3 linked regions of the Homo sapiens genome follow. The protein of the gene in region 2 interacts with the protein of the main gene of each other region in a pairwise test. Each region holds a gene or a part of one and is shown on either strand. Other genes may lie near its edges.

Region 1 (3,755 bases), on a different chromosome or scaffold from region 2:
GGTGGCTGTCAGAGGGTTTCCTGAAGGATGTAATAGTAAGAAAATATCGACGAAAAGAAAGTGGAGGCTGGGCGTCGTGGCTCACGCCTGTAATCCCAGCACTTTGGGAGGCCGAGACAGGTGGATCACTTGAGGTCAAGAGTTCAAGACCAGCCTGATCAACATGATAAAACCCCGTCTCTACTAAAAATACAAAAATTAGCTAGGCGTTGTGGTGAGTGCCTGTAATCCCAGCTACTGGGAAGGCTGAGGCAGGAGAATTGCATGAACCCAGGAGGTGGAGGTTGCAGTGAGCCAAGATTGTACCACTGCACTCCAGCCTGGGCAACAGAGGAAGAATCTGTCAAAAGAAAAGAAAAGAAAAGAAAAAGGAAAGAGGGAAAAGGCATTAGAGCATTTTAGCTAGGAGTACAGTACGAATAAAGGTGAAAACCATATGATATGAGTATAAAGTTGTTTAGAGCCTCTTTTTAAAAATTACACCTGTAAAATATTTCACTAGGTTTATGCAGCATCATTTATTGCCCACTTCCTGATTACACAGGTTGTTTGATTTCTTAGTGCTATAAACAGTGTTGTAGTGAACATCTTTGTACACGGCTTTCCTCTCACATTTCTAATTGTTTCCTGTTCCTGTAATATGCAACAGCTTTTCCGTCTGATTACAAAGGTAATAATGCAAAAAATTCACAGAAGTATAACAAAGGAGGGAAAAATTACTTTAAATTCAGAGGTATTTTGGTATATTCTTTGAAAATTTTCCTAGTGTACACACCATATTTTTAAATGATATATATATATATATTTATTTATTTATTTTTTGAGACAGAGTCTTGCTCTGTTGCCCAGGCTGGAGTGCAGCAGCACAGTCTCACCTCACTGCAACCTCCACCTCCTGGGATCATGCGATTCTCCCGTCTCAATCTCCTGAGTAGCTGGGATTACAGCCACCTGCCACCACACCCGGCTACTTTTTGTATTTAGTACAGATGGGGTTTCACCATGTTGGCCAGGCTGGCCTCGAACTCCTGACGTCAAGTGATCTGCCCACCATGGCCTTCCAAAGTGCTGGGATTACAGGCATAAGCCACTGCGCCCGGCCTTAAATCATATTTTTAAAAATAAATAAATAAATAAAATGTGTAACCTATTTTTCTTCCCTGTAGCTATTCTCTTTCACCTTCTTTTTTGGCCTTCGTGGTTATGCATTTGTGTTTTTGAAGTTACACTTGCATAAAGTTTAAAAAGTCAAACCATTCTATATGATTAGTACAAAAAAAGGGCATTCCCATGCTCACCTCTTCCAATTTCCTCCTCCTCAAAAACATTTGCTATTTTGACCATTTTGATATCTACCTCCATATTTCTAAATAATACGCTTTGCAGCTGGGTGCAGGGGTCACACCTGTAATCCCAGCACTTTGGGAGGCTGAGGAGGGAGGATCCCTTGAGCCCAGGGGTTTGAGACTAGCTTGGGCAACATAGGGAGACTCTGTCTCTACTTTAAAAAAAAAAAAAATAATAATAATAATATGCTTCTGCCAGGCATGGTGGCTCACGCCTGTAATCCCAGCACTTTGGGAGGCCGAGATGGGAGGATTGCTTGAGCTCAGGAGTTTGAGACCAGCATGGGCAACCTAGTGAGACTCCCATCTCTACTTGAAACTTCTTAAAAAAAATTAGCTGTGTGTGGTGGCACACACCTGTAGTCCCAGCTACTGAGGAGACTGAAATAGGGGGATTGCTTGAGCCTGGGGGTTCGTGGCTGCAGTGAGCTGTGATGTACCCCAGCCTGGACAACAAAGTGAGGAAAGAAAGAAAGAAAGAAAAGGAAGGAAGGAAGGAAGGAAATGCTTGTTTTGTTACTTCTTGCTTTTTCAGTTTTGAGGACTATTAACTTTCTACTACAGAAAAAGATTTAGTTCTCTTTCCTCCCCGTTACCCCCACCACATACTTATACCCAGCTTTCCAATATAATTACATCATAACTTCATTTAGATCAATATGAGATTTTATATTATGAATTTGTAAGTGCAATTTAAAGCTAAGCCAAGTAGTGAGGTATCACTGGTTTTCTCTTCCTGTACTATTTTTGTTTTTTCTGGAATTACTGTCTTATTTTTTCCCTTTGTTCGGTTTTCAACGTACTTATTGATCCAACCTTAAATCAATTGCCTAAATTTCCTCTCAAAGAGGTCAGGTATACTATCAATTTTATCTTCTGGAAGAATTCTCTCTCAGAGCCTTGTGTGGACTTCCTTCATCTGGTGTGCACGGCTATCATTCTGCAATTGCTTTCACTATCATCCTGGGAACTCCCATCACCTCAGTGTTGTGTTCCTATTTTCTGTATCAAGTGTCATCCTCATTTTTAGTTTGCTTTTGCTTTCTGTAGAGGACATAGGGACTGAGAAGGCCAAGGGATATAGTAGGTTTTCTTATCAACCACTTGGAAGGCTTCTGCTGTATTTTCAGGAGCTATTTTAATGACAGAGGGGAGAAAAGGTATGCCAGGCACATGTTACTGCTCAGAAGAAAGGGCAAAATGGCAGTAAGATGGGGCTTGGAATAAATAGGAGGCCAAGAAATAAGCAGAGTGTTCAGGCTGGGAACATGGGAGAAGAGAGACACATGTTGGCACCCAGGTCAAGTGCTCTAAAACATAGGATGAAAAATCAGAAATATAGTGAGTACTTGGGTTGTATGTGACTTGGTAGTTTTCTGATCCTGTGTTATAGTGTGAGGTAAATGTCTTCATGTATACTTAAATAAAATGATCTAAAGTAATCCTGGAGGTTTCTAAGTTATAATTTAGGGGGTACAGACATATTCATTGAGAGAATATTCAAAGCAGGGCCATAGTACTGTTTGTGAAGAAAGCTTTATCTAGTATTACCATGACTGATCATAGCAACAGTGGCTGTTTTGAGGGGTTGTGTATACCCCAGGCATTTTTTAAAGTTACTTTAGACATGTATCTCATTTAACTCTTACAACAGCCCTGTGAGGGTATTTTTAAATCCCTTTTACAAATGAGTTACCTAAAGCAACATTTAACTTTCCCAAAGTCACACAATGGAAGACCTGGGACTCAAATATGGGTCATCTTACTCCAAAGCCCGTGTTCCAAATTCACCCCTCAATAAAAAAAATCCTCATTAAGAATGTTTTCGTGGTTGAGCACTTTCTCAAGACAGTATCCAAACTGAAAAGCATGGCTGGAGTTGTGAGAATGAAATCTGATATTTTTACAGAGGAAGTCCTCTTAATGCCAGCCATGCCTATTTATAGCAAAAGATAGTTTCAAGGCTCTGTGACAGACACAGGTCTAGGTTTCCAGGGTGAAATGAATTCCAAACAAGGACAGACTGACCACAAATACTTATTTATCTGACAGCATTTGGTGCCTTTTCAAATACTGTCCAAGTCTCCCATAACATACTAGAGTAAAAACTCCCTGAGGGCAGGGATGTTGCTTATTCACTTTTATATTCTCAATGTCTAGCACAGTATCCTGCATAGTAGAATAGATATAAAATAAAATACTTCTCAGCAAGTTTTCTAGCTAGATATGTCTTTTTCTTTCCTTTGAATCTCGATAGCATTTTTTGAAAATTATCTTATGGCACTTATATCTTGTCTAATCTTTTATTTTTTATTTATTTTTAATTGACCTTCCAATGTAGGATTTTAATCTTTTATTATTTTTTAATCTAATATTTTAATTTCTTGTGCATTTATATCCCTTATTACA
Region 2 (3,755 bases):
TTCTTAAGGGCAACAGATGCTTGAGAAAGACCCGTAACATTTTGGGGCACTATCAGGAGAATACAATTTCTCTTATAACATGTTCTTTTGTATCCTTGTCATGAGCCAGAATCAAAGGTTGGGAAAGAGCACAGGCCTGTCCCAAGGCGAATTCCACACTATAAGAAGCATGATGATCACTTCAAATGTAATAAACCTGACCATCATATGTATATATATATATATGTTTAAATGCAGAGAACCAAGAAGAAAGAAATCAACTACAGTAGTACTTTTCAGGGAATTCATAAGCCTCAGGAGATAAACGGTCCATGATATGAAGCCTAGTAGGACAGGACAATTGTTCTTTTTATGACACAGCCCTTAATACTTAAAAACTCTAGGTTCTCACATTCTGAATTTACAGCTACTTTCCAAGCATGTATAGAGAGCTTGGGGCTGGATATCAAATACATTGAAACGCTGCCATCAACTTGTATAATTTTGGTCTTAACAGTGAACTTTCCCTGATAAATTTCCCAAACTGTATGTGTTGTCTCTTGCTAACATCCTTCCTCCTTAGGAGTGAGGGGTGAACCTCAGAATGAAGGTGACAGACAAAAACTTTGAAAAAGCATCCCAGGTACTTCTGGTATTTCCTGCTCCTGTCCCCCCTGCTCCTGTCCCAAAGAGAGCCATTGGTGATGGTCACAAAGAACAGTCCTGAACCTTTCATTCCATCTTCTTGGCTATTTGGGCCTTTTTAGGAATTTCCTTTTTAATATGTACAACCATTCCTTAGTTTGCTATGCTGTACTGATAAGCATCTTCTAGGGCAGAAGTATCCCATGGAATTTCTGAGATGTTAGAAATGTTCCACATCTGGGCTCTCCAACGTGGTCACTACCAGCTCTGTGAGTCTACTGAGCACTGAAAATGTGACTAGGAGTTTGAGACCAGCGGGGACAACATGGCGAAACCCAATCTCTACCAAAAATACAAAAAAGTTAGCCGGGCATGGTGGCACATGCCTTTGGTCCCAGCTACTTGGGAGGCTGAGGTGGGAGGATCACTTGAACCTGGGAGGTGGAGGCTGCAGTGAGCCGAGATCACACCACTGTATTCCAACCAGGATGACAGAGTGAGACCTCGTCTCCAAAAAAAAGAAAAAAAAATGTACGTGACTAATGAAACTGAGACACTAAATATTTAATTTTCTTTAATTTTGAAAAATGTAAATAGTCACACGTGGCTAGTGGTGACCATACTGCACAGTGAACCTCTCTATCATCTTTGTAAGTTGGCTTCGCAGGTTAGTATGACACTAAAATTCAGTGATGCCAAGAGCTATTCAGTTCGACACAGAGACACCACAGGTGTGGCCTCTTACCTGATCAGCTGCTTCAGGACATTGCATGATTGGGCCTCACTGGTAAAGAACTAAGAAAAGAGGTAGATGGCCAGAAGCAAACTTATCACTATTTTGGGACAAGGAATCCAGGTGACTAGCTTATGGACAGGGGCTCAGGGTATCATTTCCATACACAAAATACAGAAGTGTATTGTTTACCTTTTCTTCAAAATGATAATTCCTAGAATCATGTTGGCAATTAGAGAACCCTGCAAAAGGAGACAACAGTAACAGAGAGGTTTAGTGCACTAGGAAAAAAACAACGTAATTCGAGAGAATAGGAACATGGGCAAGGGGAAAAAACATGGAATGAAGGAAGCTAGGATGAATAATTAGTAAAGATTTAGTTGTTCTTATGATGGCAAAAGTATAAACCATAAAAATCTACTATGATGGCCGGGCGCGGTGGCTCACGCCCGTAATCCCAGCACTTTGAGAAGCCGAGGTGGGCGGATCACCTGAGGTCAGGAGCTTGAGACCAGCCCGGCCAACATGGTGAAACTCTGTCTCTACTAAAAAATACGAAACTTAGCTGGGCGTGGTGGCAGTTGCCTGTAATTCCAGCTACTTGGGAGGCTGAGGCAGGAGAATCCCTTGAACCCGGGAAGTGGAGGTTGCAGTGAGCCAAGATCGCGCCATTGCACCTCCAGCCTGGGCAACAAGAGCGAAACTCCGTCTCCAAAAATATACGTATATATATATATATTTAAAAAACCTTTTAAAGATGACAATGAGAATAAAAAGGATCAATTCTCAATATAGTCATTATCAGCCCTCCTTATAGGCATGTTTTGCATCCCGTGAATACTGTATTTTCATATTTGTTTGAAAAAAATTTGCATATTTGTGGACCCACGTGGTTTAAACCCATGTTGTTCAAGGGTCAACTGTAATTGCTCAGTGCTGAAGCCAGGGCTAGCACGAATAAATGATATCACAGACTTATTTTTGTCAAAATTTCCATCACCTAATTTATAAGAGCTTTTAATAAGTTTCTCCCCATTACCTGCACCTTCTACCCCCGACCAGTTTTTTCTTCCCTCAGACGGAGTTTTGCTCTTGTTGCCCAGGCTGGAGTGCAATGTTGCGATCTTGGCTCACCACAACCTCTGCCTCCCAGGTTCAAGCGATTCTCCTGCCTCAGCCTCCCGAGTAGCTGGGATTACAGGCGTGTGCCACCACGCCCAGCTAATTTTGTATTTTTAGTAGAGATGGGGTTTCCCATGTTGATCAGGCTGGTCTCGAACTCCCAACCTCAGGTGATCCACCCACCTCAGCCTCCCAAAGTGCTGGGATTACAGGCCTGAACCACTGTGCACAGCCCCTGACCAGTTTTAATGGAAAAAGTCATGCAAGGATCTCTCTGTTCTCTAAAAAGGTGACAATCAATCAACAGGTGTTTATTGAAAGTCCACTATGTTTTCAATGCTTTGAAGGTCACCTTATTATAATTGCTTTGGAAACTCCCTTCAGGAACAGTACAATCTCACAAAAATCTCAGACCACATGGAAATGTTATCACCACAATTATCAGCCTTTTTTGCCTGGAGTGCTTTGGGAGAAACCCTACCTTCATCAAGAATTTCCCTTTATTATCTCAAGTCTCTGCTTAAAAAAAAAAAAAAAAATCAGAAAAGACAAGTATCTCTTTCATGTTCTAGAAGTAAATGTACTTTTATGAAAGAAGAAGAGATAAGAAATAAGTTAAATAACATTAATAGCATGTTTGAATATAAAATCAAAGAGATGAGGGAAAATGAAGGTAAAATCTGTTTCCTAGGGAAAATTTAATTTTCTTTTTATTAATCACTCATTAGACCTCAGAAGAATAAAAGTAAACCATCCACTTTGAGATTTCTCTTTTTGCCTTCTCAGATGAAAGCCACCCTTGCTCACGCATTCACAAACCTATTCTTCTACCCAAGACCACTTACTACAAGAACCTTCTAGTTCTGCCATATATTCAATCGATCTACTTAACTATACTTTTCAGAGGAACATATACACGTGATCCGGCAGCACTTACGGATCTAAATATCATATGCAGGGGCATGGCAATGTTGAGATTCAGGGCATAGTTGTTCACCACGCTCACGGTGAAGAACATGGTCACCATTATGGCATAGTACCTGAAATGCAGACAGAACAGCTCATCAAACAGAATCTAGGATTTCAAGAAAATCAAGTATAGGAAATATATATTTTTGGCTAAAAAGGCATTTTGCCTGTTTCCTCTGCGTTGCAAGATTGCATCACTATTATGCCATGTCAACTACTAAGTACATATCAAAACGCTTCACAAAGCCAGACTAACATGGGAAAATCTAAGTTATAAAATACATTTAAAGAAACACTATTTAAAAAT
Region 3 (3,755 bases), on a different chromosome or scaffold from region 2:
TGTAAAATGCTGTTTCTAAGACACACTGGTAACCTTTCAGAGGCTCAATAGCTAGCTACATGTGACTACTGACTACCATATTGAACAGTACAGAGAACATTTCCATTACCACAAAGTTTTACTGGACAATGCTACTATAGATCATTGGCTCTATAAGGTGCCATCTCCAAAGAATGGCAAGGCTACCTTTCCAGCTTCAACTTCCACAAACATGGTCTCTTCATGTACCTGAGGCCAGCGAAAGCTACTGTCTAGTAAGCAGCCTTTTTGAGTTCTTTGCATATGGAGTTCCTTCTGTTTTATCTGACTAATTATCTTAGCTTGCAATTGGCCCCAGCATCCAGTATGTAACTCGAAATAGCAGTCATTAAATGTTTGTTCAATGTAGAATAACATTAAGTATTATTGTACATATTACAATATTTTAGAAGTCATAAGAGCTTAAATTTATCAAAAAGCGAGTGAATGGGAACGCAAAGATGAAAATCTTATTTATTTATTTTTGAGACAGGGTTTCACTTCCATTGCCCAGGCTGGAGTGCAGTGGTGTGCTCTTGGTCACTACCACCTCCACCTCCCGGGCACAAGCTATCCTCCTGCCTCAGCCTCCCAAGTAACTAAAACTGCAGGAGCACACCACAACGTCTGGCTAATTTTTGTATTTTTAGTAGAGATGGGGTTTCACCATGTTGGCCAGGCTGGTCTCAAACTCCTGACCTCAAGTGATCCGCCTGCCTCAGCCCCACGAAGTCCTGGGATTACAGGTGTGAGCCACCATGCCTGGTTGAAAACCTTAATGTTAGACTCTTAAATATAGCATTTCCTATCTTAACCCACAAACCTCAAGAACAAATGGTATTACTACTGTTTTAAAATCCACTTCAGAAAATATTCTTTTGAACACTTAATTCCTTGGTAAAACACTATGCTTAAAAATACAGTGATGAGAGGTACTATTACCTCCTACAACAAAGTAATAACTTACCAAAGTCTTAACATAATCTACTTTTTAAAGATAACCAACTACAATTTAACTACTGAAAAACTTTATACATGAAAGCAATACAGCTTGAAAAGCTCAATTCAAATGACTGTAAGTACATTTATTCAGGCTGTTTTTGTACTGATACATAATAACTGTACATATTTATGGGGTACAAGTGATATTTTGCTACATGCATACATGCATATGATGTGCAATGATCAACTCAGTGTAACTGGGATATTCGTCACCTCATTTATCATTTATTTATATTGAGAACATTCCAAATTTTCTCTCCTATTTTGAAATATACACTAAAATTACTGATAACAATAGTCACCCTATTATGCTATTGAATACTAGAACTTTTTCTATATAACCGTACTATAGTGCCCATTAACCAACCTCTCTTCATTCTCTCCCTCCCTACCCTTCCTGGCCTCTGGTAACTACCATTTGACTATCTCCATGAGATCAACTTTTTTAGTTCCCACATATGAATGAGTACATAGAATATTTCTCTGTCAATTAAGGCTGATTTTATATGAAGAAAGATAAAATACAGAAGAATCAAACAAGAAACTTAAAAAAAATTTTACATGTGCTAGTCTCTATAGATCTGTTTGATATATGTTCAGCTATTACAGATATTTTAGATACTTTGAAAGGAAAATATTACTAACTGTAAATAATGTGCAAAAAAAATTTTTTTTTTTTTTTTTTGAGACAGCGTCTCGCTCTGTTTCCCAGGCTGGAGTGTGTGTCGTGTTAGCTCACTGCAATCTCCACTGCCCGGGTTCAAGCGATTCTCGTGCCTCAGTGACCTCCCGAGTAGCTGGGATTATAGGCGCACGCCACCACACCCAGCTAATTTTTGTATTTTAGTAGAGATGGGGTTTCACCGTGTTGGTCAGGTTGGTCTCAAGCTCCTGACCTCAGGTGATCCACCCACCTTGGCCTCTCAAAGTGCTGGGATTACAGGCGTGAGCCACCGTGCCTGACCAAATAAAATAATTTAAAATATATTTTTTTTTTAATGAGATAGTCTCACTCTGTCACCCAGGCTGATGTGCAGTGGCATGATCTTGGCTCACTGCAACCTCTGCCTCCCAGGTTCAAGTGATTCTTGTGCCTCCGCCACCCAAATAGCTGGGATTATGGACGTGCGCCACCACACCAAGCAAATTTTTGTATAAAATAATGTATTTTATTCAGCATATTATTTATTTTTGTCTTAGGATTATAAAAAATAACATTTATGTATTTATTTGGTAAATGTATCTCTTTTTTGGTATGTAAATACATAGGCTGTAAATGCTTAAAAAATAAGGCTATATTGCATTTTTCACTTAATGGTATGTCAGATTATTATATTATTTCCCCAACTCCTTAATATCAGTTGGAAACATAAATTTTAATGGCTGCATCTACCTATCATGTTCCCCACTCACAATATAAGAGATACAAGGGGGCTGGGCGTGGTGGCTTACGCCTGTAATTCCAGCACTAAGGGAGGCTGAGGTGGGCAGATCACTTGAGGTCAGGAGTTCGTGACCAGCCTGGCCAACATGGTGAAATCCCAACTCTACTAAAAATACAGAAAATTAGCTGGGCATGGTGGCACACGCCTGTAATCCCAGCTACTCAGGAGGCTGAGGCAGGAGAATCACTTAAATCCCGGAAGTGGAGGTGGCAGTGAGGTAAGATCTCACCACTGCACTCCAGCCTGGGAGACAGAGAAGAGACTCTATCTCAAAAAAATAAAAAAAATAAAAAATAAAAGAAAAAGAGAGATACAAGGGCAGGGACCTTATTTGTCTGATCATCTGTGTCCCCAGTGTCTATATAACGTCTGGCTCAATTTATTTAACTTACTTTTGTTTGAAGTGTTTAATTTACAGTTCAGTTTATTGAGCTTTGTGCTTTTTGTTTGTTTGTTTTTGAGATGGAGTCTCGCTCTGTCGCCCAAGCTGGAGTGCAGTGGCATGATCTTGGCTCACTGCAACCTCTGCCTCCCGGGTTCAAGCGATTCTCCTGCCTCAGCCTTCTGAGTCACTAGGATTACAGGTGCCTGCCAAAACGCCCTGCTAATTTTTATATTTTTAGTAGAGATGGGGTTTCACCATGTTGGCCAGGCTGGTCTCAAACTCCCATCTGCCTGCCTCAGCCTCCCAAAGTGCTGAGATTACAGGCATTAGCCACCGCACCTGGCCAAGCTTTGTGTTTGTGAAGCGCTCAGTTTGATGAGTTTTGTAACTATATGGACCTATAAACACCACCTAAGACAAAATACATTTCCATTGCCCCAGAAAGTTTGCTCTTGTAGTACTTTCCCAATCAATCCCCCCCTTCTGATTTTTATTAAGTGCTTACTAAACATTTTCTGAAAGAATAAATCAATTTCTCATTGTTAAACAAATTTTTACTATATAATTATTACTATAAAAATTAAATATTTACTATATAATTATTAAGTATCTACTAATATGGTTTGGCTCTGTGTCCCCATCCAAATCTCATCTCAAATTGTAATCCCATAATCCCCACGTCAAGGGAGGAACCTGGTGGTTGGTGATTAAATCATCAAGGCAATCTCCCCCATGCTGTTCTCCTGATAGTGAGTTCTCATGAGATCTGGTTTTAAAATGGGCTCTTCCTGCTTTGCTCTTCACTCTTCTCTCCTGCCTCGTGAAAAAGGTGCCCCTTCCACCATAATTGTAAGTTTCCTGAGGCCTCCCTAGTCATGCGTAACTGTGAGTCAATTAAACTTATT

The links.
Region 1: the proteins of SLC35B4 (region 2) and STOM interact in binary tests that used the Homo sapiens proteins (3 or more experiments, as listed by UniProt).
Region 3: the proteins of SLC35B4 (region 2) and CISD2 interact in binary tests that used the Homo sapiens proteins (3 or more experiments, as listed by UniProt).

Annotation. Positions count from the first base shown.
Region 1 is NC_000009.12:121,356,636-121,360,390, forward strand, and holds part of STOM (stomatin), read right to left. Parts: intron 1-3,755. UniProt on the Homo sapiens protein: Regulates ion channel activity and transmembrane ion transport. Regulates ASIC2 and ASIC3 channel activity.
Region 2 is NC_000007.14:134,303,256-134,307,010, forward strand, and holds part of SLC35B4 (nucleotide sugar transporter SLC35B4), read right to left. Parts: intron 3,520-3,755; coding exon 3,417-3,519; intron 1,600-3,416; coding exon 1,550-1,599; intron 1-1,549. UniProt on the Homo sapiens protein: Antiporter that transports nucleotide sugars across the endoplasmic reticulum (ER) membrane in exchange for another nucleotide sugar.
Region 3 is NC_000004.12:102,878,941-102,882,695, reverse strand, and holds part of CISD2 (CDGSH iron-sulfur domain-containing protein 2), read right to left. Parts: intron 1-3,755. UniProt on the Homo sapiens protein: Regulator of autophagy that contributes to antagonize BECN1-mediated cellular autophagy at the endoplasmic reticulum.